Regions from separate parts of the Homo sapiens genome. Here all the other regions are linked to region 2. The links come from fine-mapping of genetic effects on gene expression. A gene starts in region 2. Each other region holds a variant in brackets. All regions are shown on one strand. Distances are between the middles of the regions.

What was found. PIP is the estimated chance that this variant, and not a neighbour inherited with it, causes the effect.
Region 1: its variant is fine-mapped to the expression of CABP5 in whole blood (INTERVAL, PIP 0.99).
Region 3: its variant is fine-mapped to the expression of CABP5 in whole blood (TOPMed, PIP above 0.99). The same link has a PIP of 0.9 or more in blood mononuclear cells.

What each region holds. Positions count from the first base shown.
Region 1 is chr19:48,098,523-48,108,494 of GRCh38, forward strand. It overlaps PLA2G4C (phospholipase A2 group IVC), which reads right to left. Exons shown (of 17, transcript NM_003706.3): 2 at 8,000-8,039; 3 at 6,811-6,922; 4 at 6,066-6,202; 5 at 1,149-1,338. The coding sequence starts at 8,007. Among named protein-coding and RNA genes, the nearest start is that of PLA2G4C, 7.3 kb to the right of the region's middle. The variant A/G (reference allele first, on the strand shown) is at 1,976.
Region 2 is chr19:48,039,145-48,050,328 of GRCh38, forward strand. It overlaps CABP5 (calcium binding protein 5), which reads right to left and starts at 4,935. Exons shown (of 6, transcript NM_019855.5): 1 at 4,716-4,935; 2 at 2,429-2,459; 3 at 1,461-1,604; 4 at 64-173. The coding sequence starts at 4,778. PLA2G4C (phospholipase A2 group IVC) reads right to left here. Exons shown (of 17, transcript NM_003706.3): 17 at 8,702-9,244. The coding sequence ends at 9,199.
Region 3 is chr19:48,113,607-48,123,674 of GRCh38, forward strand. LIG1 (DNA ligase 1) reads right to left here. Exons shown (of 28, transcript NM_000234.3): 22 at 9,568-9,712; 23 at 9,328-9,410; 24 at 7,564-7,716; 25 at 5,531-5,584; 26 at 4,032-4,175; 27 at 2,267-2,359; 28 at 1,839-2,126. The coding sequence ends at 2,043. Among named protein-coding and RNA genes, the nearest start is that of PLA2G4C, 7.8 kb to the left of the region's middle. RefSeq lists a silencer at 8,361-8,550. The variant A/G (reference allele first, on the strand shown) is at 5,682.

The DNA of each region.
Region 1 (9,972 bases), 59 kb after region 2:
ATGTTGCCCAGGCTGGTCTCGAACTCATGGCTTCAAGCAATCCTCCCGCCTCAGCCACCCAAAGTGCTTGGATAGGCTAGGTGCTGTGGCTCATACCCATAATCCCAGCACTTTGGGAGGCTGAGGTGGAAGGATCACTTGAGCCCAGGATTTGGAGACCACCCCGAGCAAAAAAGCGAAACCCTATCTCTAAAAAAAAAAAAAAAAAAAAAAAAAAAAAAAAAAAAAAATTTGTCAGGCCCAGTGGTGCGTGCCTGTAGTCCCAGCTACTTGGGAGGCTGAGCTGAGAGGATTGCTTGAGCCCAGGAGGTCAAGGCTGCAGTGAGCTGTGATTGCACCACTGCACTCCAGCCTGGACGACAGAGTGAAACCCTGTCTCAAGAATAAACAAAACAAACAAAAAACAACAAAAACCCGATGTGTTAGGATAGGCTGGATGCAGTGGCTCATACACGTAATCCCAGCACTTCGGGAGGCTGAGATAGGAGGATCACTTGAACCCAGTAGTTGGAGGATTGCTTGAGCTCAGGAGTTTGAGACCAGCCTGGGCAATATAGCAAGATCCCTGTCTCTACAAAAAAAAAAATAATTAAAAATTAGCCAGGCACGATGGTGCATGCCTGTTGCCCCAGCTTACTCAAAAGGCTGAGGCAAGAGGATTGCTTGAGCCCAGGAGGTCGAAGCTGCAGTGAGCCATGATCTCGCCACTGCACTCCAGCCTGGGTGACAGAGCAAGACCCTGTCTCAAAAATAAAATGAAATAAAATAAAATAGTGAATTCAAGACATCAAATGGCCAAGCAGAGATGGAGAGGAAAGTTGTCTTGGGTCTGACACTTTCCCTATTTCTGCCTTATTCCATCATAAGTCCTCATTGTTCTTCTTGCCCTGGATGTCTGTGTATCTTTCTAGTAAATCATATCACTTTATTTGTTGCATAAACGAATCAGAGTCAATTTCTGTCACTTGCAACCACAGTAATCCTGATATACTTTAGTTTTGAGGCATCAACCGAAGTGCCCAGATTTTGATGACTTGAAAATCCTGAAGGACTTAAAAGGTGGTGCTGGTCAGCATCTTTGGTAACCCCACACCCTGAGACCCCTTGCTCCTACCCCCACCCCAGGTCCCCAGCTGGGAATGACTTACTTCTCTGGTTTGCTTAGAGATAACCATGTAGGCCCAGAAGTCGGTCAGAGAGTAATTCTCAGACCTCGCTGCTTGGATGGTTTTCTGTAGGCTCTTAGCCAAGTCCCACTCCTGTCGGGTAAATCGATGTTTCAGGTCAGCCTCGAGAGCTTCCATGTCACCATCATTGGTGTAGAGAGAAGATATTGCCCTGGAGGACAGAGGAAGAGAGTGAGTTGGGCATTTTAAGTGTGGACGATGAAGACTGGGGAAAGATGTGTGCAAGGAGGTCCTTCACAGGAACACCTGCCTCATGGAGAGGGCGACACACAGAGGAAACGGAAAATTTCCATTAAATAAATACAACTGCAGAACGATCAAGTTCGAAGGAGGACTCAAAATCATCTGGGACAATCCTTCCATTTCACAGGCAGGAAAATGAGAGCACGATGGGAGAAAGGCCTCATCAGAGTCAAATGTTTTTTGCAGCCAGCACTTATTAAAAGGTTTATATGTGACAGCAACAAACTGTCTTTAGTCTTTTATACCTATTAACTCACATAATCCTAGAAAATCAATGAACGGGGCCAGGTGTGGTGGTTCATGCATGTAATCCCAGCACTTTGGGAGGACGAGGCGGGAGGATTGCCTGAGGTCAGGAGTTCGAGACCAGCCTGGCCAACATGGTGAAACCCCGTCTCCACTAAAAATACAGAAAAATTAGCCAGGCGTGGTGGCATGCGTGGTGGTGGGTACCTCTAGTGCCGGATACTCAGGAAACCCTGTCTCTACTAAAAACACAAAAATTAGCCAGGCATGGTGGCACACGCCTGTGGTCCCAGCTGCTC[A/G]GGAGGCTGAAGCAGAGGAATCGCTTGAACCCGGGAGGTGGAGGTTGCAGTGAGCTGAGATTGTGCCACTGCACTCCAGCCTGGGCGACAGAGCGTGACTCCATCTAAAAAAAAAAAAAAAAAAAAAAAAAGCTGGGCGTGGTGGCTTACGCCTGTGATCCTAGCACTTTGGGAGGCCAAGGTGTGCGGATCACGAGGTCAGGAGATCGAGACCATCCTGGCTAACATGGTGAAACCCCGTCTCTACTAAAAATACAAAAAATTAGCTGGGTGTGGTTGCAGACCCAGCTACTATAGTCCTAGCTACTCGAGAGGCTGAGGCAGGAGAATGGCGTGAACCCGGGAGGCTGAGCTTGCAGTGAGCCGAGATCGCGCCACTGCACTCCAGCCTGGGCAACAGAGCAAGACTCTATCTCAAAAAGAAAAAAAAAAAGAAAAAAAAGACTTTATATTCATTTGTTCACTCAATAAATATATATTATATATATTAATTTATAAAGAAAAGAGGTTTATTTAGCTCACAGTTCTGCAGGCTGTACAAGAAGCATGGTGCAAAAAGCTTCTACTCATGGCAGAAGGCAAGGGAGCTGGTGTGTCACATAGAGTCTATATATATATATATATATATATTTTTTTTTTTTTTTTTGAGACAGGTCTTGCTCTGTTGCCCAGACTAGAGTGCAGTGGCATGATCTTGGCTCACTGCAGTCTCAAACCCCCAGGCTCAAATGATCCTCCCACCTCAGCCTCCCAAGTAGCTGGGACCACTACCCACCAGGTGCATCACCATGCCCTGCTCATTTTTAAATTTATTTTCTGTAGAGATGGAGTCTCACTATGTTGCCCACGCTGGTCTCAAACTTGTGGCCTGAAGCAATCCTCCCACCTCAGCTTCCCAAAATGCTGGGATTATAGGTGTGAGCCACCGTGCCCGGGCTCAATAAAAATTTTTGATGTTCTTAATGCTGCTTATCGGGTGCTATCTACCCTCACACCATCCAATGTATTAAACATACATCATAGCTCTTGAGCCCCTGAAGTGTGGCTAGCATGATTTAAAATATTTATTTCATTTTAATTAGCTTAAATTTAAACACTGGTACTCCATTCAGTTATTGGGAAACTCTGAAGTATGTTTGGAACAAGCTGGGTATGAAAAGTTCTTTCCTTTAATATCTTTTTTTTTTTTTTTTTGAGATGGAGTTTCACTCTTGTCACCCAGGCTGAAGTACAGTGGTTCGAGCTCGGCTCACTGCAACCTCTGCCTCCCGGATTCAAGTGATTCTCCTTCCTCAGCCTCCCAAGTAGCTGGGATTACAGGTGCGTGCCACCACACCCAGCTAATTTTTGTATTTTTAGTAGAGACAGGGTTTCACCGTGTTGGCCAGGCTGGTCTCAAACTCCTGACCTCAGGTGATCCACCTGCCTCGGCCTCTTGAAGTGCTGGGATTACAGGTGTGAGCCACTGCCCCGGGCCTCCTTTAACATCTAATGAGACTTCTGCATCCAACTTGGAATGCGCTCAGTATAAAACGCCCAGCAGCTTTCAAAGACCTAGTCTGACAAAAGGAATGTCAAATATCTCATTAACAATTTTTTTCTTAACGATGTGTCAAAATGCTAATGTTTTGGATATATTGGGTTAAAGAAAATGGATCATTTCACTGTTTCTTTTTACCTTCTTGAAGAGGCTACTAGAAAATTTAAAATGGGCCGGACATGGTGGCTTACACCTGTAATTCCAGCACTTTGGGAAGCCAGGGCAGGCAGATCACCTGAGGTCAGAAGTTTGAGACCAGCCTGGCCAACACGGGGAAACTCCGTCTCTACTAAAAATACAAAAATTAGCTGGGCATGGTGGCACGCGTCTGTAATCCCAGCTAACTGGGAGGCTGAGGCAGGAGAATCACTTGAACCTGGGAAGTAGAGGTTGCAATGAGCCAAGATCGCGCCACTGCACTCCAGCCTGGGCGACAAGAGCAAGACTGTGTCTCCAGAAGAAAAAAAGAAAAGAAAAGAAAGAAAGAAAATTTAAAATGATAGAATAGATGTGGCTCATGTTACATAGCTCTACTTGATAGCTCAGGTTGGGACGATTTGCATGTGTTTCATCATTTAATTCTCAAACAGCCCTGTGAGATCAGCACAGTTTGTTGCTGTCACATGTAAACCTTTAATAAATGCTGGCTGCAAAAAACATTTGACTCTGATGAGGCCTTTCTCCCATCGTGCTCTCATTTTCCTGCCTGTGAAATGGAAGGACTGTCCCAGATGATTTTGAGTGCTCCTTTGAACTTGACCGTTCTGCAGTTATATTTATTTCATGTAAATTTTCCATTTCCTCTGTGTGTCGCCCTCTCCATGAGGCAGGCGTTCCTGTGAAGGACCTCCTCACACACATCCTTTCCCAGTCTTCATCGTCCACACTTACAATGCTCAACAGCGGAGGAAACCAAGGCACAAAGAAGTATGTCTGGGCTCGTAACAGCCCACAAAGGACAGCTCCAGGAACTAACCCAAAGCTGTTGAAATATAAGGCTTTCGTTGTTGTTGTTTGTAGAGATGGGGTCTTGCTATGTTGCCCAGGCTGGTCTTGAACTCCTGGGCTCAAGAGATCCTCCCACCTCGACCTCCCAAAGTACTGGGATTACAGGTGTGAGTCCCTGTGTCCAGCCAGGCCTGCCTTTTTAACCACAGCAGTCTCGGAAAGATTCCAGAAGAAATCATGGGGTTCCTATCTCAATAGCGCCCCCTGGAGTTCTGCAATGTGCAGTACAGCTAAACCCCCACGCCATGTCACTCAACATGTTAGATGAGCCTTGGAGGAATAGAGGGGTCCGGTGTGACTCTGCAGGACCTTTCCCACTCCCAAGCTCTGCAGCTCTGCTCTTCATGCTGTCGCCTCCAGGAACCTCATCCTCCACATCCAGCTCAGAACCCAGCTCCAGATCAAACTTTGAGCACAGAAATGAAAACAAATCAGGCCAGCCAGGCTCAACATTCATGCCTCTGCCCTGCCTATCTCACACTCGAGCCTCTGCTGCTCTGCCTAGCCTTACCTCCTGCTCTGAAAATGTGCCAAGATCGATTAGTCATGTCTGCCCTGGGCTTGGCAACAAACATGCAGACATGAGTGTTTCATACCTGCCATCTGGGGCCTCCTGAATGAGACAGTCCTACACGGATTAATGCAATACTTTATCATAGAGGCTGATAAGTTAAAAGGGCTGTATTCTATCCACCTGCAGTGTGAAAAGTGCACCTGAACATGTAAATCCTCCTTTAATGTCAGAAGGTAGTATTATTATGCTTTGTCCATGGCTTTGTGTAGCAAAGAAAGATACTTGGTGTTTTCCCCTGCTTCCTGGTGCAGAGTTCCTAAAACCCTTGGAATTTTCTTTTTTAGAAAAAAAAAATTTTTTTTTTGAGACAGGGTCTCTCTGTCACCCAGGCTGGTGTGCAGTGGTGTGATTGTAGCTCAATGCAGCCTCAGCCTCCCAGGCTAAAGCAATCCTCCTGCCTCAACTTCCTGAGTAGCTGGGACCATAGGCATGCACCACCACGCCTGGCTAATTTTTTCACTTTTTGTAGAGATGGGGTCTTGCTATGTTGCCCCGCCTGGGTCTCAAACTCCTAGACTCAAGCGATCTTCCTGCCTCAGCCTCCCAAAGTTCTGGGATTACAGGCGTGAGCCACCACACCTGGCCCATCTTTTGTAATACACCAGCAATTGTAAGTAAAGTGTGTTCCTGAGTTCTGTGAGCTATTCCAGTAAATTATTGAACATGAGGCGGAAGCTGTGGGAAACCCCAAACTATTGCCAGTCGGTCAGAAGCACCAGCGGCTAGGTAATTGCAACTCGTGTCTGAAGTGGGAGCAGTTTTTTGGGACTGAGCCCCTTTCACCTGTGGAATCTGATGTGAACTCCAGGTAGCCAGCGTCAGAATTGCTCAGAATTGTAGGACACCCAGCTAGTACCAGAGAGCTCGAGAAGCAGCGTTGGAAAAAACCACACACATTTGGTGTCAGGAGGAAAAAAATAATCCCATTTATGTGTCAGAAAGCAATCTGAAACATGAGTGATGCTTACCAAGTGGATCCAGAGACCCCTGCGAGGTACGTGACGGCATCCAACAGGCCCTGTTCTTTCATCTCACTCAGGACCCCAAGGCAGGCAATGTGAGCCCGCAGTCCTCCGCCTGAGCCCAGCACAGCAACAACTGGGGCCTAGGCATTGGGGAGAAAATCGATCAGAGGTTTAGAGCCTGAGGATGGAGGTGGGAACAAGAAGAAGGGTACCTGGGGCCGGGCACCGTGGCTCACGCCTGTAATCCCAGCACATTGGGAGGCCGAGGCAGGTGGATCACTTGAGGTCAGGAGTTCAAGACCAACCTGGTCAATGTGGTAAAACCCCATCTCTACTAAAAATACAAAAATTAGCTGGGTGTGGTGGCACACACCTGTAATCCCAGCTGCTCAGCAGGCTGATGCAGGGGAATAGCTTGAACCTGGGAGGTGGAGGTTGCAGTGAGCCAAGATCATGCCACTGCATTCCAGCCTGGGTGACAGAGCGAGACGTTGTCTCAAAAAAAAAAAAAAAAAAAAAAGAAAGAAAAGAAAAGAAAAAGAAAGGAGGAGGAGGAGAAGGAGGAGACCTAGGATCTCCCTTAGGCAGGGGCAATGCCTGTCCCATAGAAGTTCATATCCTTCTATTTCTATCCCATAGAAGTTCATATCCTTCGGTCCAGCTCTCCCTGGCTGAGTTGGGCCCTGGACACTGGGCACAGAGGGGGCGATTCTGGGATCTCTGGGGCCACCCTCCTCCCCTCACTTACCTCATCAGCCTCAATCCTTAGCTTCTTCAGAGCTTTCAGCACATGAAGTCTTCGTCTCTCCACGGCCGCCTTTTCTTCTTTCTGGAGCCCAGGAATTATGGAAACTTCAGAGCTTCCCAGGAGAAAACACAAAGAAGTCCAGAAAATTCACAGGGAAAAGGGATAAAACACAGAATTTGACCTAGAACTGGGCTGTCCAAGCAGGTAGCCACCAGCCCACGGGTACATGGTTTCCTTTTGGGGTGAGGAAAATATTCTGAAACTAGATAGAGGTGATGGTTGTACAACACTGTGAATGCATTGAATGCCAGTCAATTATTCACTTTTCAAAATGGTTAATTTTGGGGCCAGACGCGGTGGCTCACACCTGTAATCCCAGCACTTTGGGAGGGTGAGGTGGGTGGATCACTTGAGCCCAGGAGTTCAAGACCAGCCTGGCCAACATGGTGACATACCTCCCTCCCTCCCTCCCTCCCTCCCCTTCCCTCCCCTCCCTCCCTCCCTCCCTTCCTTCCATCCTTCCTTCCTTCCTCCTTCCTTCCTTCCCTCCTTCTTTCCCTCCCTCCCTCCCTCCCTCCCTCCCTCCCTCCCTCCCTCCCTCCCTCCCTCCCTCCCTTCTTTCTTTCTTTCTTTCTTTCTTTCTTTCTTTCTTTCTTTCTTTCTCTTTCTCTCTCTCTTTTTTGAGACAGAGTCTCGCTCTGTTGCCCAGGCTGGAGTGCAGTGGCGCAATCTCAGTTCACTGCAACCTCCACCTCCCCGGTTCAACAATAAGACAGGGTCTTGCTCTGTTGCCCACCACCAGTGCGGTGGTGCAATCATAGCTTACTGCAGCCTTGAACACCGGGACTCAAGTGATCCTCATGTCTCAGCCTCCTAAGTAGCTTGGACTACAGGTGTGTACCACTATGCTTGGCTAATTTTTAAAAATATTTTCTTTTATTGTAGAGATAGGGTTTCACCATGTTGCCCAGGCTAGTCTCGAACTCTGGGGCTCAAGAGATCTTCTTGCCTCGGCCACCAAAAGTGCTGGGGTTACAGGCATGGGCCACCATGCCCAACCTTCAGCTCTTTCCATCTATCTCCACCAAGCGAGAGGAACTGTCACAGCCCTCACCTCTTGACACTCACTATGCATTCCATTACACAAATGCTCTGCTTCCCCATAGTGGTCAGCTCTAAGAGGACTTACCTTCCCATGGTGCACTGCGGTCAGAAAATTCTCAGTCCTCCTGCCAAAGAAATGGCTCTTCTTAGTCCTGTGCCCACTGTTGGGCTTAGCAAAGACAGTGGGGGAGGGCTGGGACTGTCACGGGCTCATGGGTTCTCCTTGTCCACTGCCCAGACAAAACCAATGCGAACAGCAGGTGTTGCAGCAAAGAGAGAGAGTTTAATAATCTCAGGGGCGGCCAAGCGAGGAGAATGGGAGAAATATTTCAAGCGCGTCTCTCTGAAAATTTGGAGGCTAGGGTTTTTCCTCGCTCTTTCTCTTTCTCTGCCTCTGTCTCTGTCTCTGTCTGTCTCTCTCTCTTTAGATGAAGTTTCCCTCTTGTTGACCAGGCTGGAGTGCATTGGCATGATCTCGGCTCACTGCATCCTCCGCCTCCCGGGTTCAAGCGATTCTCCTGCCTCAGCCTCCTGAGTATCTGGGATTACAGGCATGCACCACCATGCCCGGCTAATTTTTGTATTTTTAGTAGAGATGGGGTTTCTCCATGTTGGCCAGGCTGGGCTTGAACTCCCGACCTCAGGTGATCCACCCGCCTTGGCCTCCCAAAGTGCTGGGATTACAGGCACGAGCCACCGCGTCCGACCTGAGACTAGGGTTTTTTAAGGAAACTTTGGTGGGCAAGGGGCTGAGGGAACAATTGATCGGCTATGGATGAAATCACAGGTGTGTCCAAAACTATCTTTGTATAGCTGAGTCAGTTCCTGGGAGCGGGTCTCAGGACCAGGTGGTAGCTCTTGGTCTGCCAAAATGCTCACTCTGAAAACTATCTCAAAGACAATTTCTTTTTTTTAAAACAAAAACAAAACGAAACATTATTGCCAGGAGCAGTGGCTCATGCCTGTAATCCCAGCACTTTGGGAGGCCGAGGCAGTCAGATCACTTGAGGTCAAGAGTGACCAGAAGACAAGTGTGAGCCCTCTGTCATGCCCGAATAGGGCCACTAGAGGGCCCCTTGGTCTTGGGGTAACGCCAGCGTCTGGGAAGATGCCCATTGCCTAGCGGACCTTGGTCTAGCGGTTGCGTCAGTGCCTAGAGACCAGGAAAGGGAGTCTCCCTTTCCCCGGGGGAGTTAGGGAAGACTCTGCTCCACCGCCTCCTGTGGAGGGCCTGAGTGATGTCAGGCCCGCCCGCAGTTATCCAGAGGCCTGACCATCTCCCTGTGATGCTGTGCTTCAGTGGTCACACTCCTGTTTCACTTTCCTGTTCCACTCTGTATACCTGGCTGCACCCTCTAGATAGCAGTAGCAGAATTAGTGAAAGTATTAAAATATTAAAGTCTTTGATCTTTCTGAAAAGAACATAAAAGAAATAATGACATAAGCTATCCTCTCTCTCTACGCCTTGGCTACCTAACATAGAAGGGCTCCCTGTCCAGTGGACACGTGACTCACATGACCTTATCAATCATTGGAGATGACTCACACTCCTTACTCTGCCCCTTATTATCCAATAAATAACAGCGCAGCCAGGCATTTGGGGCCACTATCGGTCTCTGCGTCTTGGTGGTAGTGGTCCCCCAGGCCCAGCTGTCTTTTCTTCTATCTCTTTGTCTTGTGTTTTTATTTCTACGATCTCTCGTCTCCGCACATGGGGAGAAAGACCCACAGACCCTGCAGGGCTGGTCCCTACAGTGGCGCAATCATAGCTCACTGCAGCCTCCAACTCTTGGGCTCAAGCAATCCTCCTGCCTTGGCCTCCTGGGTTGCTGGGACTACAGGCATGCACCACCACGTCTGGCAAAGTTTTAATTTTTTTGTAGAGATTGAGGTCTCACTATGTTGCCCAGGCTGGTCTCATTCTCCCGGGCTCATGCAATCCTCCTGCCTCAGCCTCCCAAGAAGTGGGGATTACAGGTGTTAGCTACCACACCCCACTAAAAAGCTGAGTTCTGTGTTTCACGACAGTGATATTATTTATAGAAGTAGCTGGGGAAG
Region 2 (11,184 bases):
TTACAGGCAGACCTCAGAGGGTCTGCCTCTACCATCACCAGCACCATGACACTGTTAACTCACCTCCTTGAAGGCATCCCGCATCTCCTGGACACCGATCATCCCAGCTGTTTCTGCAAGCAATTTGGGGGTCATCAGCTCCACAAAGTCATCAAAGTCTACACGGCCACCCACTGAGGAAGATGGCACAGGATTAGCGAGACCCCACAAGCCCTGGCCTTCCATTACCTCACTTTGTGCTTCGAGTCAGTTAGATCAGCTCCCTTCTCCCTGCCCTATAAGAGCCGTCTTTGACTTCCTCCCTCCAGCAGCTAACTCCAAGCTCCAAACTCATGTCCCTCTAGCCTGAACAGGAGTGGATAGGGTGTGGTATGGTGGAAGTAACTGCCTGTGTGACTTTCAGACAGTTGGTTAAGATGTTTCTCCTCCTCTGTAGACCTGTACAAAGAGGAGCATGAATTAAATGAGCATACAATTTTTTTTTCAGATATGAATACTATCATTACCTTGAATTCAACCTTGTTTAGTTCGTTACATGCCCAGAAGCAAACCCAATAGCTTTTTTTTTTTTTTTTTTTTTTTTTTTTGAGACAGAGTCCCACTCTGTTGCCAAGGCTGGAGTGCAATGGTGCGATCTCGGCTCACTGCAACCTCTGCCTCCCGGGTTCAAGCGATTCTCGTACCTTAGCCTCCCGAGTAGCTGGGATTACAGGTGCACGCCATCACGCCTGGCTAATTTTTTGTATTTTTAGTAGAGACGGGGTGTCACCATGTTGCCCATGCTGTTCACAAACCCCTAACCTCAGGTGATCTGCCCACCTCAGCCTCCCAGAGTGCTGGAATTACAGGTTACAGGTGTGAGACACTGCGCCCAGCCTCAATAGGAATTTTATTCTAGCTAAAATCTAAAAATCAGTTATGATCTCCATCCAAAAATCCATCCATCCTTTTTGCAGCTGTATTCACCAACATTAGCTCCAGCTCCAAGTTTGTTTCCAACATCCAATACAGCTCCAATCTCGTGCTCCACTGATGAATCTTAGTGGTGATAGTAATAACTACCTTTAATAAGAATTTACTGGAGGCTAAGACTTTAACTGCATCAGCATCTTTATCTCTTCCTTCTCTTCCTTTCCACAGTCCCATGAGGTAAGGAGAGAGGCATCTTCCTCTATAGATGAGGAAATGGAAACTGAAGAGTAGCGGATAACTTCACTTTTCAAAATGACTGTAATTAGTAAATAATAGAACTGAGATTTGAACCCAGACCTATCTCTAAAAGCTTTTAACCACTTCAAATGCTGCCTTCCTGAGTCGAATCTGACCTGTTTTCTTCCAGACTTCTAGTCCCTCTCATCCTCCTCTCCACCCCCAACTCTACTCTTAACCTCTACATCCTTCCCAATTCTGCCCTGATCCCTTCCCTAACCCCGGCCATCCCTCCCATTCCCTGGACTCACGGTTCATGCGGATTTGCTGGCCGAGCTCAATCAGTTCCATCTCCGTGGGCATGTAACCCATCGTCCTCATGAGATTCCCCAGATCCTTACAAGAGATGAACCCATCTCGGTCCTTATCGAACTCAAGAAATGCTTCCCGCAGCTCTGAAAGTTAAGAGAGAACTTTGGGGGAACTTGAAGCAGTCAGTGGGGAAGAGTGGCATCTCTTGAAGCTATCAATGAGGCTCCAACTAGAGACTCCTTAAAGGAGCGTACATTAGAAACAAAACAAAACAAAACAAAAAAACCAAGGCCGGATGTGGTGGCTCATGGCTGTAATCCCAGCACTTTGGGAGGTCGAGGTGGGTGGATCACCTGAGGTGAGGAGTTTGAGGCCAGACTGACCAACATGGCAGAACCCCATCTCTACTAAATACAAAAAAATTAGCTGGGCATGGTGGCTCATGCCTTTGATCCCAGCTACTAGGGAGGCTGCCTCAGCCAAGGCAGAAGAATCGCTTGAACCTGGGAGGCGGAGGTAGCAGTGAGAGGAGATCGTGCCATTGCACTCCAGCCTGGCAACAAGAGCAAAACTCTGTCTCAAAAAAGAAAAAAAAATTCAAAAAGGAGTGATGTATGAAATGTGTTAGCAAAAGAGGCATCATTCCTGAGACCACTAAATGAGAGCACTGGCGTCCTTCAGATTCCTGGATGAAGTTATGGGGAACCTCAAAGTCACCAAGAGAGAAACTCATTTGTTTTCACTCCTGAGTCTTGGAGATACTTGAGGATGGATATGCCTTCGAAATACTTTGGGAAGTCCTTCAACTGCCACGAGAAAGAGTTCTACAAAATTACAGTTGAGTGGGAAGAGAGAGGGATTGTAAAAATTCCATGTAATGGAATTTATACGGAAATGCACAAAGGGACTGAGGGCAGGTCAGGTGGGTGGATGGCAACGTGGAAGCAACTGGGGAAGACGGTGTTACCTTCAATCTCATCTTGTCCCAGTGGTCTTTCCTGGAAAGGAATGCAGATGAGAGGGAATTTGGAGAGAGGGTCACCCATTCTCCAAAGGGTCTCCTTGTTCTCCCAAGCTCCTCCCCACGCTCTCGTGGTTCTCTTTCCATTCTCTCTCTCCTCCTCCATCCCTCCCATTCCTTTTCCCATCTCCTGACTCCTGTTCCACAGTTCTTGGCTCCCCACCCCCCTCTCGATGTCTCTCTCCCACCCACGAATCCCAATCTCCCTTTTTCTCCCTTTCTGAGACAAACACCCATCACATTGTGTCAAAGGGGGTCTTAAACACTGGGGAGTCCAATCTCCAGATGAAAAAAGTGAGACTTCACAACCACAGCTAACTCATTCAGAGTGGTGACTCTGTGCCAGGCAGTTTCCACAATCATTTCATTTAAACCTCAGTACTGCTCTGTGATGCAGATCTACATCTCGTTTCCATCTTACCCATGAGAAAGCTGAGGAACAGAGAGGTTAAGGAACCTGCACAAGGTCACACAGCTCACAAGCAGCAGATCCCCTCCCAAGGGAGGAAGGCATTCACCTGCTCCCTGGAGGTCATGGGGCAAGTCAGACACAGTATTGGGATTTGAATTCAGGGCTCCTGACTCCCAAGTCAGAATTCTTCACACTAGCCCCCATTCACTCCTTTCTCACCTGCCTCCAATCTTCCTGCCAAAGGTTAGAATCTCTGTGCATGGAAACAGCATTCAATGGCTTTCAGGCAGGAGGGTCAGTGCCAGCATGACCAGTTCCTAAACACTCTGAGAATGTCCAGTTATTGCTGCCCCACCTACTCCTGCACATACCTGAAGGGTTGGGCTTACATATACATGGCATGTTAACAAGGAAATTCTACTGACCTCTGGTCTCTTTAGCCTTCCCATCTCCCTTTATCCCTGGAGCCTTTCCCTCAGCTTCTCTTTCATCTGATCCCCTCCTTGCGGTCCCTTATCACCCTTTTTTTCATTCTCTCTCTCTTTTTTTTTTTTGAGACACAGTCTCGCTCTGTCACCCAAGCTGGAGTGCAGTGGCACGAACTCGGCTCACTGCAACCTCTGCCTCCCGGGTTCAAGCGATTCTCCTGCCTCAGCCTCCCGAGTAGCTGGGATTACAGGCGCCTGCCACTGCACCCGGCTAATTTTTGTATTTCTAATAGAGACAGGGTTTCACCATCTTGGCCAGGCTGGTCTTGACCTCCTGACCTCGTGATCCACCTGCTTTGGCCTCCCAAAGGGCTGGGATCACAGGCGTGAGCCACTGCCTGGCCTTTTTTATTCTCTTTTTTTGGTGATCTTAAAGCCTAACAATGAAAAGTATGCCCACATATCTGGACAAGTTGGTATATATGGAAAAATAAAAAAATTTTAAAAAGCATGCCCACAGGAATCAAGCAAACCCGACCCTGCCACTTACTTTTTTTTAACGAGACAAAGTCTCACTTTGTTGCCCAGGCTGGAGTGCAGTGGCATAATCAGGGCTCACTGCAGCCTCCACTTCCTGGGCTCAAGCGATCCTCCTGCCTCAGCCACCTGAGTAGCTGGGACTGCAGATGCATGCCACCATGCTGAGCTATTTTTTTGTATTTTTAGTAGAGATGGGGTCTTGTGTTTCCCAGGCTGGTCTCAAACTCCTGGACATAAGTGATCCTCCCGCCTCTGCCTCCCAAGATGCTGCGATTCAGGCATGAGCCACTATACTTGGCCGACCCTGCCACTTACTAACTGTGTAAGCTTAAGGCAAATGACTTCATGACTCAGAGCTTCACTTTCCTCACCTGTAAAATGGGAATGAAAGTCACTGACCTCATGAGTTGTTCTGAGGTGTAAATAACATCAGGTGTGCAAATCCCTTTGCACAGGGCTGGGCACAGAACAATGACTTAATAAGTGGCAGCTATTGTTATTAACGTCATCATTATCATCACCACCACCACCATCATCACCACCATTATCACAATGAGCATCCATAGAAAAGAATGATGGTAATCTCAACAATGACATCATCCCACTTTCCCTTTTCATTTTTCTTCCTTTTCTCTCCTTCTCTTTGCTCCTGACTTTTGATTTTACCCCCACCCATTTATCTCACTGGCTTACATGACCCCACCAGGGTCCTTGGAATTTCTTATACCTTCTCAGCTCCTGCTCTATCCACCTGTTCCCCTGGTTCTGTGGCACCATCATGTCCCCTTCTTTGTCCCACACCCCTGCTCCCTTTGCCCCGCCCACCGCCCTTCCCCCTCACTCCCCACCTCACCCGCTGTTTCTCAGCAATGCCTTTCCTCAAGAAGATGCAGGCGGGGCCCATGGGGAACTGCATGGAGGGGTGGGGTGGAGCTCGCAGGGCACCAGTCTCAAGATGGCCCCTCCTCCCTGCTCCCTGTCGGAGCTCAGCCTCCTTATCTTCTCCAGCACTCCTTTGCCACCTCTTCCTGCCTCTCTTGGCTTCTCCTTCGGTCCCGGTGTCTTAGAGCTGTGACAGCTGGGCTGGAAATCTCTACCCGGGTTGGGGAGGGACCAGAGCTGTCCCTGCCTCCCCATCTGGCTTGAATGATATGGGTGGGGAAATGCAGAGTCAGGTTCTGTGACGCCTTTATCCCCAGAGTGGAATTGGAAAGTGCATTTTATAAATGGGGATTAGAGGCTGGATGTGGTGCTCATGTCTGTAGTCCCAGCGCTTTGGGAGGCTGAGGTGGGAGGATTGCTTGAGCCCAGGAGTTTGAGACCAGCTGAGCAACATACGGAGAGGCTGTCTTTACAAAAAATAAAAAAATTAGCCGTGCATGGTGGCACACACCTGTAGTCCCAGCTGCTCCAAAGGCAGAGATGGGAGGATTGCTTGAGCCCAGGAGTTCAAGGCTGCAGTGAGCTATGATTGTACCATTGCACTCCAGGCTGCAGTGAACTACGATTGCACCATTGTACTCCAGCCTGGCTGACATAGTGAGACCCTGTCTCGAAAAAAAGAAAAAAAAAGAAAAAAAAGAAAAGAAAATGGAGGATTAGAGCAGACGGCATCATTTATTCAATGTTCCAACAAGCATGTGAAGGGTCACTCCAACACTGGCCTCTGGGCAGTGAGATGGAGAGCTCAGCACCCCTGGCCTCAGGGAGTTTTCCTGGGTGAGTCGGGAATGTGTGAGAGTGAGCAGGATGCAAGCATGGACTTCAGGAAGTGGGCGTACACGGTGACTAAGAGCATGGCATTTGCTCTTCCTCTGTTCATCTCTTTCCTTCTGTCTTTCCTGAATGATTTAGAGGGAAAAAGCAAGGTGGGGGTGTCAGGGAGGGTGTGAAGTTATGGTGGTGTCAAAGCCCAAAGGGGTTTTGCGACTCCACACTAGGTAGGGTTAGGGGAGGAGGGGGCTGGGGGCCATCTGGCGTGGAGAGCCAGCATTCCAGTGGGGTAGTGGGGTGAGGAGAAGTCCACATAGAGGGGCAGCATGACCCAGGGTGTTGGGGCTGGAGATGGTGGGGATAAATCCACAGATGGGCAGCTTGGTGTGCAGTGTTGGAACATGAGCTGAGTGGGGCGGGGGCATTTATATGCAGGCATTGTCTGGGGTGGAGGTTTGCACTGTAAGGCAATTAGGAAGGAGGCCACATAGAGGGGATCTGGCATGGGTTGTCATAACCCAAGCAGAGAGAGAAATGTCCACTCATGGGAATAGCATGGTGTATGGTGTTGAAGCCAGACTAGGCTGGGAAAGACATCCCCACAGGGGTGAAATGGCAAAGGAAAAGGGAAATTGGCTACACACAGTGAGTAAGGGGAATGGGGGCCAGGTCTCCTACTGTTGGAAAAGGGAGTTACTAAGACAGAAAGGAGGAAAGTCGAATGAGCCCTGTGGTGTTGGACTATAACTGGAGGCGTTGGTATGTCCTCATGGATCTCAATTATACATAGAGAGATAAAAATAAACACATAGTTTCAGTGTGTATAGGAACATTTGTACACATATTCTCTAGCTCTCTCCACTAAGAGAACATAGAAACAATGATGGCCCATATGAATGAGCACCACTAGCATCCAAATCTTGACTTCTATATACCATTCTCCACCAAATGGAACCAGAGTGCCTAGGAAATTTGGCTGATTCCATGTCTAGAGCAAAAAAAGAACAAGATGAGCCTACAAACGTCCTATGCTTAAAGCAAGAAATTGCTCAAAGTGTTGTGAGAACATGTGGAAAGAACACAGGAGTCTGCTTGAAGAAGCTCCATTGGCCATACTGGGCAGTTTGAGAGTCAAAATAAATAATGATAGTAACAAATTATACAGGACCACAGAAGAAACCAGGAGTCCATACTCAGATAAATAAAAAGCTAAGTGAGAAGTTTGATATTTACAGAGCTCAAAATACCTCCCTACAAAATACCAATTTCAAAGGAGTTACGTTATAGTGGAGAAACGTGGCAAACACCATCTTAGTCAATGAAAGTGGACATCATCAGTAATGTGACAAGTTGGAATTTCACACCACCTGACAGGATGTCACGAGAACAGCATCGCTTCTGTAAGATTCCTGAATCTCATCATAATCAGACGTCAGACGAACCCACATGGAGGGATGGTTTACAAAATAACTGGCCTGTAAGCTTCAAAAATGTCAAGGTCATGAAAATCAAGGAAAGATTGAGGAACCGTTCGAGATTGGAGGAGACTAAGAAGACATGGCCGAGGCTGGGCGCGATGGCTCACACCTGTAATCCCAGCAATTTGGGAGGCTGAGGTGGGCAGATCACCTGAGGTCAGGAGTTCGAGACCAGCCTAACCAACGTGGAGAAACCCCGTCTCTACTAAAAATACAAAAAAATTAGCCCGGCATGGTGGCACATGCCTGTAATCCCTGCTACTCGGGAGGCTGAGGCAGCAGAATCGCTTAAACCCAGGAGGCGGAGGTTGCAGTGAGCCCAAGATCGTGCCATTGCACTCCAGCCTGGGCAACAAGAGCAAAACTCTGTCCAAAAAAAAAAAAAAAAAAAAAAAAAAGCTACGACTGAATGCAACACAGAATTCTGAACAGGATCCTTCTGCTATCAAGGTCTTCTTTCGGATGACTGGTGGTTTGCTGGCAATAGTTTGGCGGCCCTTGGTCAGTAGAGCCTCACCCCAATCCCTGCTTCCATGTTCACATGGTTTCCTCTCTGTATACATGCCTGTCTCTGTCTTTAAATCCCCCCCCCTTTTTTAAAAGAATTTTATTTCAAATCTGGGATACATGTGCTGAACATGCAGGTTTATTACATAGGTATACATGTGCCATGCTGGTTTGCTGCACCAATCAACCCGTCACCTAGGTATTAAGCCCTGCATGCATTAGGTATTTGTCATAATGCTCTCCCTCCCCTAAATCCCCCCTTTTCTTTCCTTTTTTTTTTTTTTTTTTTTTTTTTTTTGAGACAGAGTCTTCACTCTGTCACCAGGCTGGAGTGCAGTGGCATGATTTGGCTCACTGCAAGCTCCACCTCCTGGGTTCAAGCGGTTCTCCTGCCTCAGCCTCCCGAGTAGCTGGGACTATAGGTGTGTGCCACCATGCCCAGCTAATTTTTGTATTTTTAGTAGAGATGAGGTTTCACCATGTTGGTCAGGATGGTATCAATCTCTTGACTTTGTGATCCACCTGCCTCGGCCTCCCAAAGTGCTGGGAGTACAGGCGTGAGCCACTGCGCCCGGCGAAATCTCTCCTTTTCATAAGGACACTAGTCATTGTGGATTAGGGTCCACACGAGTGACCTCATCTTCACTTGATGACATTGGTAAAGACCTTATTTCCATGCAAGGTCACATTCACAGGCACTGGGGGTTACAATGGCCACATCTTTTGGTGGGGGTGGGACACACAATTCATCCCATAACAGTCCTGCTTTAATTCTGGAAAGCCTGTATGAATAATAATTGCTCTGGAACTCCGTCGGTGCCAGACTAACTATTCTAAGGTCTTGAGACTCATGAACTCATTTAAGCCTTTCTAGGATACAGGCTCCGTGATGGTCTATTCTACAGACGATGGAACTGGGGCATGGAGGCGAAGGCTCTTGCCCATGTTCTCATGGTAAGCAGATAACAGAAGTAAGATCCAAACCCAGCTGTGGAACCACCATGCTTAATTGCTGAGATATAGATGGAAGAAGATGGAAAGGAAAGGGGGAAGGGAAGAAAGGAACAAGTAAAGGGTACACAGAGGGTGAAAAGGGCCGCAGCAGGGGTGGTGGCAGACCAAGACACACACACACAGCTAATCCATCAGTCAATCAGCAAGCATTTATTGAGCACTTGTTGTATTCTCAGAGCTCCACTTGGCTGTGGAGAGATAGCCCATGATTTAAGCCCAAGTTCTTACTTCTACAGAGCTAACTTGTGCAGAGCTACTGGCTAGAAGTGCAGTCATAAAGGAGCAGTGGAAGGCATTGGTCTGAACTATCACATTCATTCTGGCCATCTGGACATTGGACATGATGCTTCTGATTGTCAGACACTCATGCTCCAGCTCCAGGATCTCCCGAGGGACCTGCAGGACAAATTTCACCACCTTCAGCTCCTTGGACGCCTTCTTCTGAATGACGCTATCAAAATCACAGTCTAGCTGGTCACTGGTGATTGGCCCTGTTAGGACAGCCAAGGTGAACTCAAGGCCATGAAGCGTGTGGCTGAAGGGAGTGAAGAACAGGAAGGCCAGGTGGACATCAGGGCCCTAGTAGACCAACAGGCCCACAGTGCCCTGGAAGCTGAGGCTCATCTATGCCAAGCAGCAACTTCGGGCACTATCCTTCGGGTAGTAGAGCCTGGGGAGAAAGGAAAGTTAGAAGTTACCACTGTGCTTTGTAGGCAGTGTTGCACACTGGATAAGATTAGAAGACCTGGAAGCCTCTACAGGTCATACATGACTTAGGAGAAAGACATTCATCCATTCTTTCATTCATTGAGAAGACCTGGAGCTCCACCACCTCCTCCTGTGGAGCTCTTGTGATCTACTTTTACCACGTAAACGTTTATTTATCCAACACTACGCTTATTAAGCATGTATCAGGAGCTGGGCTAGGAGGTAACTCTTTGGCCTACATCGAATGTCATGATACCTGCCAGAATTCACAAGATCTGATCTCTGTCCATCTCTCCAATCACATTTCATTCCGTGCTTCCCCTACCCTGATCCAGCAATAACAGCTTTCCTTCTGTTCCTCGAATAGACTGATATAGTTTGGAAATTCGTCCCCTCCAAATCTCATGTTGAAATGTGATCCCCAGTGTTGGAGGTGGGGCCCAGAGGGAGATGTTTGGATCATGGGAGTGGATCCTTCATGAATGGGTTGGTGCCTTCCCTGCGGTAATGAGTGAGTTCTTGCTCTATTAGTTCACTTGAGATCTGGTTGTTAAAAGGAAACTGGTGCTTTCCTCCCTTCTCTCTCTCTTGCTCTCTCTCACCATGTAACACGCCAGCCCCCCTTCCCCTTCCACCAGGATTGGATGCTCTCTGAAGCCTTCACCAGAAGTAGATACAGGCGCCATGCTTCTTGCACAGCCTACAGAACCATGAGCCAAATAAACCTCTTTCCTTTATAAATTACCGAGCCTCAGATATGCCTTTATATTAGTACAGAATGTTATAGACATAGGTAAGACACAGATCAAGGTCTTTCCCACTCCAGACACTTTGCATTTACTTTTCCTTTGCACAGAATTCTGTTCCCCAAGACTTCCTCATGGCCACCCCTTCTCAGTATTCAGCCCCAGGTGAAAGGTCTCTCCCTCAGGATGCCTTCCCAGACCCCCAGACCCTTTCCTAAAAAGCTTTCACTTTACTCCTCAGCACACCGCACGTTCGGTCGTCTCCATGGCACTTACTCTCCATGGCCATCCTGTTGACTTCTTTGTTTACCTGTTTATGTCATGTTGCCCCCCGGGAGGAGGTACATTCTACAAGAGCAAGAGCCTCATCTGACCTGTATGCAGCCACGGCTGCAGGACCTGGGCGGACTGGATCTAGCAGGCATCCAGGAAATGTTTGTGGAATCAATGAATGAAAGAATGAACACCATGGTGAGCAAAGTGATGTGGTTCCTGACCCCACACTGCTGCACACCTTATTATGAGGAGAGAGAGTCAACAAATAAGCATAAATAAGCCCTGAGTTCTACAGGTGAGAAGGTGGGGAGTGGACAGGCACAGAGGAAAATCATGTGTAGACACAGGGAGGCACCATCTGCAAGCCAAGGAGAGAGGTCTCAGGAGAAACCACCCCTGTTCACACCTTGATCTTGGACTTCCAGCCTCCAGAACTGTGAGACAATAAGTGTCGGTTGTTTAAGCCACCTGATCTGTGGTACTTTTTTCTTTGAGACGGAATCTCCCTCTGTCAGCAGGCTGGAGTGCAGTGGCATGATCTGGGCTCACTGCAACCTCCACCTTCTGGGTTCAAGCGATTCTCCTGCCTCAGCCTCCCAAGTAACTGGGACTACAAGTGTGCACTACCATGCCCATCTAAGTTTTGTATTTTTAGTAGAAATGGGGCTTCACCATGTTGGCCAGGTTGGTCTCGAACTCCTGACCTCATGATCTGCCCACCTCGGCCTCCCAAAGTGCTGGGATTACAGGTGTGAACCACCATGCCCGGCCTCTGTGGTACTTTTTAATGGCAGCCCCAGCAAACTAATATACAACCCCTCATTAGAAGACAGATGAGCAGCAAATAACCGCCCTGCCCCATGCCAGGCAGGGCTTTTGG
Region 3 (10,068 bases), 74 kb after region 2:
TCCCCCCTGCGGGAGTATCAGGACACCCTGACACTCTCATGCCCGGAAGCTCCTGTTCCACGCTGGGCCCCGGGGTTAGAGGCCTCCTGCTCTGGAAGACCCGAGCCTGGGCCCCGCTCCGCGTGCAGCCGTTTTCCCCAAGCCAGCCCCGTGGTGCCCAGGGCTGGGTGGGTGTTCCAGGCATCCTGCTTGCCTTGTCTGACCATTTCCCGATGGTTTTCCTCTAACATATCATCCCATGTGGGGTGGCTGCAATAATAACAGCCCCCATAGATATCCAGGTCTTAATCGCTGAAACCTTTGATGTGACCTATTTTTTTTTTTTTTTTGAGATGGAGTCTCGCTCTGTCGCCCAGGCTGGAATGCAGTGGCACGATCTCGGGTCACTGCAACCTGTCTCCCAGATTCAAGTGATCCTCCTGCCTCACCCCACTAGTAGCTGGGATTACAGGCACGCGCCACCATGCCCAGCTAATTTTTGTATTTTTAGTAGAGACGGGGTTTTGCCATGTTGGCCAGGCTGGTCTCGAACTCCTGACCTCAGGTGATCCACCTGCCTCAGCCTCCCAAAGTGCTGGGATTACATGCGTGAGCCACCGCGCCTGGCCCTTTTACATTTTTATTAATTTTATTAATAAAATTAGAGGAGATGAAGTCTGGCTGTGTTGGACAAGCTAGTCTTGAACTCCTGGCTTCAAGTGATCCTCCCACCTCAGCCTCCCCAAGTCCTCCCCAAGGCGTGAGCCACTGTGCCTGGCCTCTGTGAATGTGTGATCTTATGTGACTAAAGGGACTTTGGGATTGAGTTAGGATCCTGAAATGAGATTATCCTGGATCATCCAGGGGGCCCTAAATGTAACCACTTGAGTACTTGGAAGAGAGAAACAGAGATCTGATGGAGGAGAGGACGTGACCTGATGACCTCAGGAGAGAGATTTGCAGGTGCGATGCTGCTGGCTTTGAGGACGGAGGAAGAAGCCATGAGCCTAGGAACCAGGTGGCCTCTGGAAGCTGGAAAAAGGACACAGTTTCTCTCCTGGAGCTCCCAGAAGGAACCGGCCCTGCCACCACTTTGATGTTAGCCCAGTAAAACTGATTTTGAACTTCTGACCTCCGAAACTGTTTAGGGAATACATCTGTGTTATTTTAAGACACTGCATTTGTCTTCCTTAACAGGGCTCACGATGGTGCCTCCCTGTGGGATGGCTGGAAGGTTAAACAAGTTAAAAAATATATGTATGTAAAGATTTTAGACTACTGCTGTCCAATACAATTAAATAAAATATTTGGTATGGCTGGGTGTGGTGGCTCACGCCTGTAATCCCAGCACTTAGGGGGGCTGAGGAGGGTGGATCGCTTGAGGCCAAGAGTTCAAGATCAGCCTGGCCAACATGGCGAAACCCCATCTCTACTAAAAATACAAAAATTAGCCAGGCGTGGTGTCACATTCCTGTAATCCCAGCTACATGGGAGGCTGAGGCAAGAGAATCACTTGAACCCGGAAGGTGGAGGTTGCAGTGAGCTGAGATCTCATCATCGCACTCCAGCCTGGGCAACAGAGCGAGACTCTGTCTCAAAACAAAATCAAAACAAAACAAAACAAAACAAATTCGCATCCTCTGTCATGCTGGCCACCTGTCAAGGGCTCGGGCATTGCAGGTGGCCAGTGGCGGTCACACTGCACAGAGCAGATAGAGAAGACGCCCACCACTGCAGGCAGTTCCATGGCTGGCACTGGCTCTGGCAGTTCCTAGGCCATGGCTACATGGCTACATGCTATGCAGGTGACACCCATGACAGCTTTGCCCCCAGAGCCCAGCACAGACCCTGTCACAAAGTAGCTATCCAATAATTATTTATTGAAAGAAATGACGGGATGAATCCCAGACTCCGGAGTAAGCCACCCCCTCACACACACACCCCTCCCCTGACTCTCAAAATCCACAGCCTGCCACAGCAGATTTGCTAAAAAGCAAAGGCAATAATAACCCTGGGGTCCGTCCAACTCATGCCCTGTACCCAGGCCCTAGGAGGGCGAGGGCTTAGTAGGTATCTTCAGGGTCAGAGCCTGAGTCCTCGCCTTGTTGGTTCTGAATCTGACTTTGCTTCCGGTACAAACAGGCCACCTGCGGAGAGAGGGTGGGACGGGGTGGTCAGAAGCTCCCTGGCTGCTCCCACCTCCACAAGGTTCCAGAGAGGCCACCACGCTAAAAAGCTGGTAGGGCCAAGCAGCTGGGCGGCCCACCCCTGCTTCCCAGGACCTCACCTGAGCACTGGTGGTGGCCTGCTCCGGCTGCTTGTCTTCACGGACTCGAATAAACCGAGGGAAGCGAAGGGAGATGCCCTTGTCACTATCCACCTGCGGAAGCGGGATGGAGACTCCTGCGGTCCAGCCCCAGCGACCCCCTGCTCAGTCTCCTCCCTCCTCCACTCTGGACTGTTTCCTGATCCACATGACGGGGCCGAACGATGGGTTGTCATAAGGATTAAACAAGTTGACAAAGTGCTTGGAACAGTACCCGGGCACAGTAAGTGCTCAAGAAATGCTGCCTGTTGGCCGGGTGCGGTGGCTCACCCCTGTAATCCCAGCACTTTGGGAGGCCGAGGCGGGTGGATCACGAGGTCAGGAGATGGAGACTATCCTGGCTAACACGGTGAAACCCCGCCTCTACTAAAAATACAAAAAGAAATTAGCCAGGTGTGGTGGCGGGCGCCTGTAGTCCCAGCTACTCAGGAAGCTGAGGCAGGAGAATGGCGTGAATCCGGGAGGTGGGGAGCTTGCAGTGAGCTGAGATTGCGCCACTGTACTCCAGCCTGGGTGACAGAGCGAGACTCCAACTCAAAAAAAAAAAAAAAAAAATGCCACCTGCTACAGCCGTTACGATAATGACGGTAATTCGGGCTGAGAGGCTGAACTACGGCGCCAGGGTATGGGTTCTAGAATCTGACTGTGGGATTCCAATCCCAGCTCCCAACTCTCAGGAGCCGCGTGATGCAGGGGCAGTTACTCAGGCTCTCTAGGGCTCTACATCCTCACCGTAAAATGGAGATGTTTGTGTCACTACGTCTTACGGATTTTGAGAGGATTAAATGAGTGTCTATGAGTGACACGCTGATGACCACACAGTGCCCACTGCACAGCAAGGGCTGGATACACACCGGCTCCTGTGCCTTGTTACTAAGGGTCCCTGGCTGTCTAACGTGCAGCATGGTAAAACATTTTTAAAAATTAGATCAAAAATGTAAGTTCTTGGCTGGGCATGGTGGCCCACACCTGTAATCCCAGCACTTTGGGAGGCCGAGGTGGGCGGATTGAGGCCAGGTGTTTGTGACCAGCCTAGTCAACATGGTGAAACCCCGTCTCTACAGGCACGGGTCACCATACCCAGCTAATTTTTCTATTTTTTGGTAGAGGTGGGGTTTCACCGTGTTGGTCAGGCTGGTCTTGAACTCCTGACCTCAAGTGATCTGCCTGCCTCGGCCTCCCAAAGTGCTGGGATTACAGGCATGAGCCACTGTGCTTGCCCTGGGAATTCTTTTATTTAAGAAAAGAATTTTCTTTTCTTTTTTTGAGACAGAGTCTTGCTTTGTCACCCAGGATGGAGTACAGTGGTGTGATCTCGGCTCACTGCAACCTCCGCCTCCCAGGTTCAAGCGATTCTCCTGCCTCAGCCTCCTGGGTAGCTGGGACTACAGGCACCCGCCATCACACATGGCTAATTTTTGTATTTTTGGTAGAGATGGGGTTTCACCATGTTGGCCAGGCTGGCCTTGAACTCCTGACCTCAAGTGATCTGCCTGCCTCGGTCTCCCAAAGTGCTGGGATTACAGGCACGAGCCCCCATGCCCGGCCCATTTTTAAAGAAAAAATGTTTTGATCTTTTTATCTGACACTCAAATAAAATGCAAGCTCATCTTCCTGATCCTTACCTGGAAGAGCAGATGTGAGCCAAGGTCCCCTCCCTACTCTGCTCTCTGTGTGCCCGCCCAGAATCCCACACAGGGCCACGGCCAGGTCCTCTGCCACTCACCAGGCCCCGCGCAGCAGGGTAGATGGGAGAGAGGGAGAGGTCAGCGCACTTCACCTCCCACACAGCGCTGGGGTCCAGCCAGTGGTCGGGAATCACAGCGCCATCTATCCGCACGTAAGGGCGTGGGCTGGGCAGCACCAGCGCCTGCAGTGAGCAGAGGAAGAGAGGAACAGAGGGTCTGGAATCTCAAAGTCAAGGCCAAGTGTTGGAGGGCTGGGGAGAGGGAGGAAGGGAAAAAAACAGGCACCCCCTTGAAGTAAACAGAAATAGGAAGTGAAATAAGGGAAAAGAAACAAGACACCCCCTTGAAGTAAACAGAAATAGAAAGAGAAACAGAAAGTGAAAGAAGGGAAAAGAAACAAGACCCCCTTGAAGTAAAAAGTTGAGAAAGGTGGGAGTTGGGAGGAATGGGAGATGGAAAGAAATGAAAGGCCCTGGGGGCTGAGGCAGGACATTAAAGACAAAAAGAGGCAGAGAAAGGGCCAGAGACCTGGAGGAAGGAGACAGAGACACAGTGGGACAGGGACAGAGATGTAGAGAGAGAGGGCAATGGAGAGAGAGAACCAAAGAGTGGGACAGAGATGGTGTCAGGGTCCGTGTGTCCCCACCCACATCTTGTCTTGAATCATAGCTCCCAAAATCCCCATGTGTCGTGGAGGGACCTGGTGGGAGGTAACTGAACGATGGGGGCAGGTTTTTCCCGTGCTGTTCTCGTGATAGTGAGGAAGTCTCACGAGATCTGACGGCTTTATAAAGGGCAGTTCCCCTGCACACGCTCTCTTGCCTGGCGCCATGTAAGATGTGCCTTTGCTCCTCTTTCGCCTTCTGCCATGACTGTGAGGCCTCCCCAGCCGTGTGGAACTGTGAGTCCAGGAAACCTCTCTTTATAAATGATCCTTTTTTTTTTTTTTTTTTTTTTGAGACAGAGTCTCACTCTGTTTCCCAGGCTGGAGTGCAATGGCATGATTTCAGCTCACTGCAACCTCTGCATCCTGGGTTCAAGCAATTCTTCTGCCTCAGCCTCCCAAGTAGCTGGGACCACAGGCATGCGCCACCACGCCCGGCAAGTCTTGGGTTATTTCTTCATAGCAGTATGAGTATGAAAATAAACTAATACAGATCCAATATGTAGGACAGACACTCATGCCTGAAATGCCTGTGACCATGACAACATTCATTCACATTGATCAGGGCTCACAGGCACTTCACAAGGAGCAGCTATGGCACCTGCTGTGTCCTTTGGCTAACCCCTGGTGTGAATGAGGCACAGGGCTTGGGGAGGTGAGGCTGCTTGAGCAGGGTCACCAGCTAGTAGCCGGCAGTGCTGAGACATGAACCTGGAGATGCTGGACTCCAAAGCCAGCTCCACTGCCTGCTGCCCTCCTGCCCACACCTGGAGCCCCAAGATGGTGGAAGCCAAGAGCCCTGCATGGAAGGACTGTGCTGTCAGGGGCAGGGGGGAGAGGGGTGGAGGCTGAGGCGCAGCCGCCATGGCTCACCTTGAGGCTCTGGTGATGCTCCTCCAGCTCCTCATCACTGAAGCCAGTTCCAAGCTGCAGGGAGGAAGCGGGAGGTCAGAGGCTCAGCCAGCCACAGGCCCAGCACTTGCTCCTGCCATCTAAAGCTGTGTACACTCATGGCCCCCACCCC[A/G]CTCTGGTCTACGCAGTATCCACAGAAAACCAGGGAAGTAGGGAGCTGGGGGTGCGGAGCATCCATCCAGAGACTCCCGGGTGGGAATGTTCTCCCAGCAGGCCTGCCGTGAACCACTCCCTGTCTTCTGCTTTATGGAGAAACTCTTGCTGCTTCCACTGTCTCCCTGGCCCCAGGAAGTCACTCCCTTATGCTCACCCACATCCTCACTGCCCAGTAACTGGCTGTCCTCACTTCCAGTCTTTTTTTTTTTTTTTTTTTTTTTTTTTGAGACAGGGTGTAGCTCTGTTATCCAGGCTGGAGTGCAGTGGTGCAATCTTGGCTCACTGCAACCTCCACCTCCTGGGCTCAAGCAATCCTCCTGCCTCAGCCTCCCAAGTAGCTGGGACCACAGGCATGCACCACCACGCCTGGCTAATTTTTTAAAAAAGTTTTTGTAGAGGTGGGGTCTCACTATGTTGCCCAGGCTGGTCCCGAACTCCTGGGCTCAAGTGATCCTCCCACCTCAGCCTCCCAAAGTGCTGGGATTACAGGCGTGAGTGGCCATGCCCAGCCCATCTCCAATGTTAACACTGCCAAGAGCTTCTTTCACCTACCAAAATAGGAAAGGCTAAAAATTAGCAGTAATGCTGGATGCTGGCAGATACGCAGCAAGTGGGCAATAATCACCAATATAAACGTCACCTGGAAAGCCCCTTTTGCATTGAGAGTCTTAAGGATTCTTTTTGCCTTTTGTCCTGACAATAGCTCATTTAAAAATCTATTCTAAATAATGCAAAATGGTGACAATGTAGATTGGTGGCCAAAACATTTGTGATTTATAAAAGTCACTTCTGTCACTGATCGTTTAGGTTAACGGACACTAAGTAATCACATTACCCATCAGAACAAAGCCGGCAACAACTTCCCCACACAGCCACGGGGAGCTGGTTCAGGACACAGCACTATGTGCTATGGGGCACAGCACTTGAAAACTCTTGTGCGGGCATTCAGGTCCTGTTGCCATATTGCTTAAGGGCATATACAACACTGAAAACAAAGTACTTCCAGGGTAAAAAGGCAGAAAAGAAAATTACTCATAGAGAAGGATCACAACTTTGCAAAAATGTAAATAAAACATTCCCTCAAATGTCACTACTGCGTGTCTCTGGGTGGTACGATTCTAGGTGATATTTTGTTCTGTTTCTGTGGCAAAAGACCCAAATTTGTTGGAGAGGGGAATATAGGAAATACGTAAGAAAATCTAGTCCAAAATGTGCACAGCTTTAAGAAAAACTTTAACTTGAAAAAAAGTAAATCACTTTACATTTCCCAGAATTCCTTGCAGCTAGGGGTGAGCCATGGAGCAAAGTGATGAGCAACAGAACTTGAGCAGAAGGTGTTCACTGGCTGAGGCTGACTCAGGGTCCAACCCCCTTTGCTCTTCCCTGGTGCGTGGAGCAGGCATGGCCATGAGGGCTGGAACTCCTGCAGCCACATTGTGATGATGAGGCCAGAGGCACATGGCAGAAAAAAAAAATGTGGGGACAAAAAAAAATGTGGGGAGAGGAGGAACCTGAATCCCTAATGGCATCAGACTGCCCCCTCCACACTTCTCATTTCATAACAAAAAAATTCTTTTCTTATGTGAGCCACCACTATTTGTAGCTAATCTCAATCTCTCACTGACACACATTCCTGACATCTTTCTATCCCAGCCTGTTTTTCTATATGAAGCAAGAGTTGCTCATAGAACCAGAAAAAGTAAATAAAAACTGGGGAGAACGGATCCTTCACAGGGGGATGTGAGCACCCCTCGGTCTGGGTTGTGCAATAGGAAATACCCCCGGGAGTCTAATCTCCTTCCCTCCTGCTTCTGCCATCAGCCCCAGTTCCCCAGGACCTTGCATATGGCCTGCAGCTCCTCACTGTCCTCGTCGTAGGAGGCCAGCAGGAAGCCCCCGTACCGGCCGGCCCGCTTCCCCCGGCCCAGGTAGGCGCCGATCACCACCAGGTCCAGGGTGTCACCCACGCCATCAAGGTAGTCCTTCTTCAGCTGGGAGAAGGGGAGGCAAGAGATGAGAAGGGGGAGCGCCCAAGGCGGGGCCCTCACTGCTGGGGAGGGGCTCCTCAGTGGACTGAGGAGGGACTAGAAGTAAGTCTGAAGGGAACTTCCAGAAGGAACCCCAAGGATGGCCCCTGGGAAGAGACTGGACATGGGAAGGGTTTCTAGGTTTAAATAAGAACAAATGGGGCCGGGCACGGTGGCTCATGCCTGTAATCCCAGCATTTTGGGAGGCCGAGGCGGGTGGATCACCTGAGGTCGGGAGTTCGAGACCAGTCTGACCAACATGGAGAAACCCCGTCTCTATTAAAAATACAAAATTAGCCGGGCGTGGTGGCGTGTGCCTGTAATCCCAGCTACTTGGGAGGCTGAGGCAGGGGAATCGCTTGAACCCGGGAGGCGGAGGTTGCAGTGAGCCAAGATCGTGCCATTGCACTCCAGCCTGGGCAATGAGAGTGAAACTCCGTCTTAAAATAAATAAATAAATAAATAAGAACAAATGGGAAACGCAGGCGGGATCGATGGGACCTCAGGAGTCAGCCTTGCCGCCGTCTTTCCCTCAGGACAGAGACGTGGCCAACTCACTCTGGCCACTCCTCCAAAGGGAGAGCATTTTCCCATTCGTTCAGAAACGTTCACTAAGTGCTAACCATGTGCCAGGCAGAAGCTCAGCCCTGGGGGCACAACAGTGCTATTTCCTGAGACAGGAAAGGTCTGTGCTGGAGGGAAACCAGCCACAGACAGACATAAGTACACAGGAAGAGCTAGTCAGCAGGCCTGGCCGGCTCAGTGCCACAATGCCTCCCGCTCCAGTCCCCTTGTCCACCCCTCACTGCCCCTCTCCACTCAAACATCCATCAACTCTTACTGATGACAGGCTCCTGCTCGCTGGCCCTCAACACACCCGTCCTCCACTCGAGGGGAAACCCCAGGAGCTTCGCACAATGACAACCTGTGACTCCCGGCACGGAACCCCCACTGACTTCCTGAAACCTTCAAGAGGAAGATCCAGTTTTATCTCACAGTGGCCCCAGGTGCTGCCTCATCTGGGGCCTGCTCCCCACTCTGAGCTCACCTCCCGCCTCGCCTGCCCTTGCTCCCTGCACACGCAGAGGCTGCTCCTCCCTCAGGGTCTCTGCACCGGGGGTTTTCCTCCCTAGTGCTCTGTCCCTCACTTTGGGAAAGACTCTTCCTGATCATCCGGGGCACTCCCAGCCCCGCCTTGCTGGCCCGGAGCTGACTTGCTTTTCTTCATGGCGCCCACTCCTGCCTGACTTTCTCTTATTCATGTCCTGGCTTAATTCCTGCCCAAGAGCCTGGCCCGACACGGGCGGCAGGCTCAGGAGAGAGACACCTCATCACGCTGCACCTCGTGGGATGTGCGGTGCTTGGGCTGGGGCTGTTCTCCATCAGAACTCGTGAGCAAGGGCTCGCAGCAGGGAGAAGGTCTGAACTCAGTTGCAGCAGGGGGCTGGGGTGGGATTGTGAAAAGGGGCCCTGAGCTCAGACAGGGTACACAGTGGAGGCTCGAAATCCACTGCCTAGCTGGGACAGACCTCCAGACCCGGGGTGGAGAAGGCCCAGTTGGGGGTCGAGAATCACCTTGAGCCAGTTGTGCGATCTCTTGGCGATCTCGTAGGTGGCATCAACATCCAGGGTCTTCACCATCAGCCCCTCGCAGGAGTCTGAGGGAGACACAGAAGCGTGGTCCTTGGGAAGCCCTGGCTCACAAGCGCCGGAGCAGGCAGGATTCTGGTCAAACGGTCCAGGACTGGGGACAGGCTGGGAGGCCGGGGTCAGCGCAAGCTGCAGACCTCAGGAGAGAAAAGTGAGCACCCTCACCTTTCACTGACTGCTCCAGGAACTCGGCGATCTGCTCGATGTCCTTGGTGTCCAGGGAGGTGGCGAAGACAAACTCGCCCTCTGTCTCCACAAAGTTCTCCCGGAGCAGCTGCCGGCGCCGGGAAAGGGGCTCACGTACCAGGGACTGCAGGGCCGGCAGGGAGAAGAGAGATGAGACATCTTTGTGAGAATAAAGACAATAAGCCCTAAATGTGAGGCGAACAGGACATGTGCGGGTCACAACTAGTGACAGGGTTCGTGGAAAGCCTTGAGAGGGAAGAACCCTGATGTCAGAAGGATTCTGAGAGCTTAAAGCATGGGGCTAGTCACTGGCAAGAGGGCCCGACACCATTTAGAGTCGGTGACTTCAGGAGCATCAGACGGGGGGCTGCGGCCTTGCTGGAGCTTGAATTAACACTTTACGGGCATCTCATCAGTTTTGTTTTTTGTTTTTGTTTTTTTGAGACGGAATCTCGCTCTGTCGCCCAGGCTGGAGTGCGG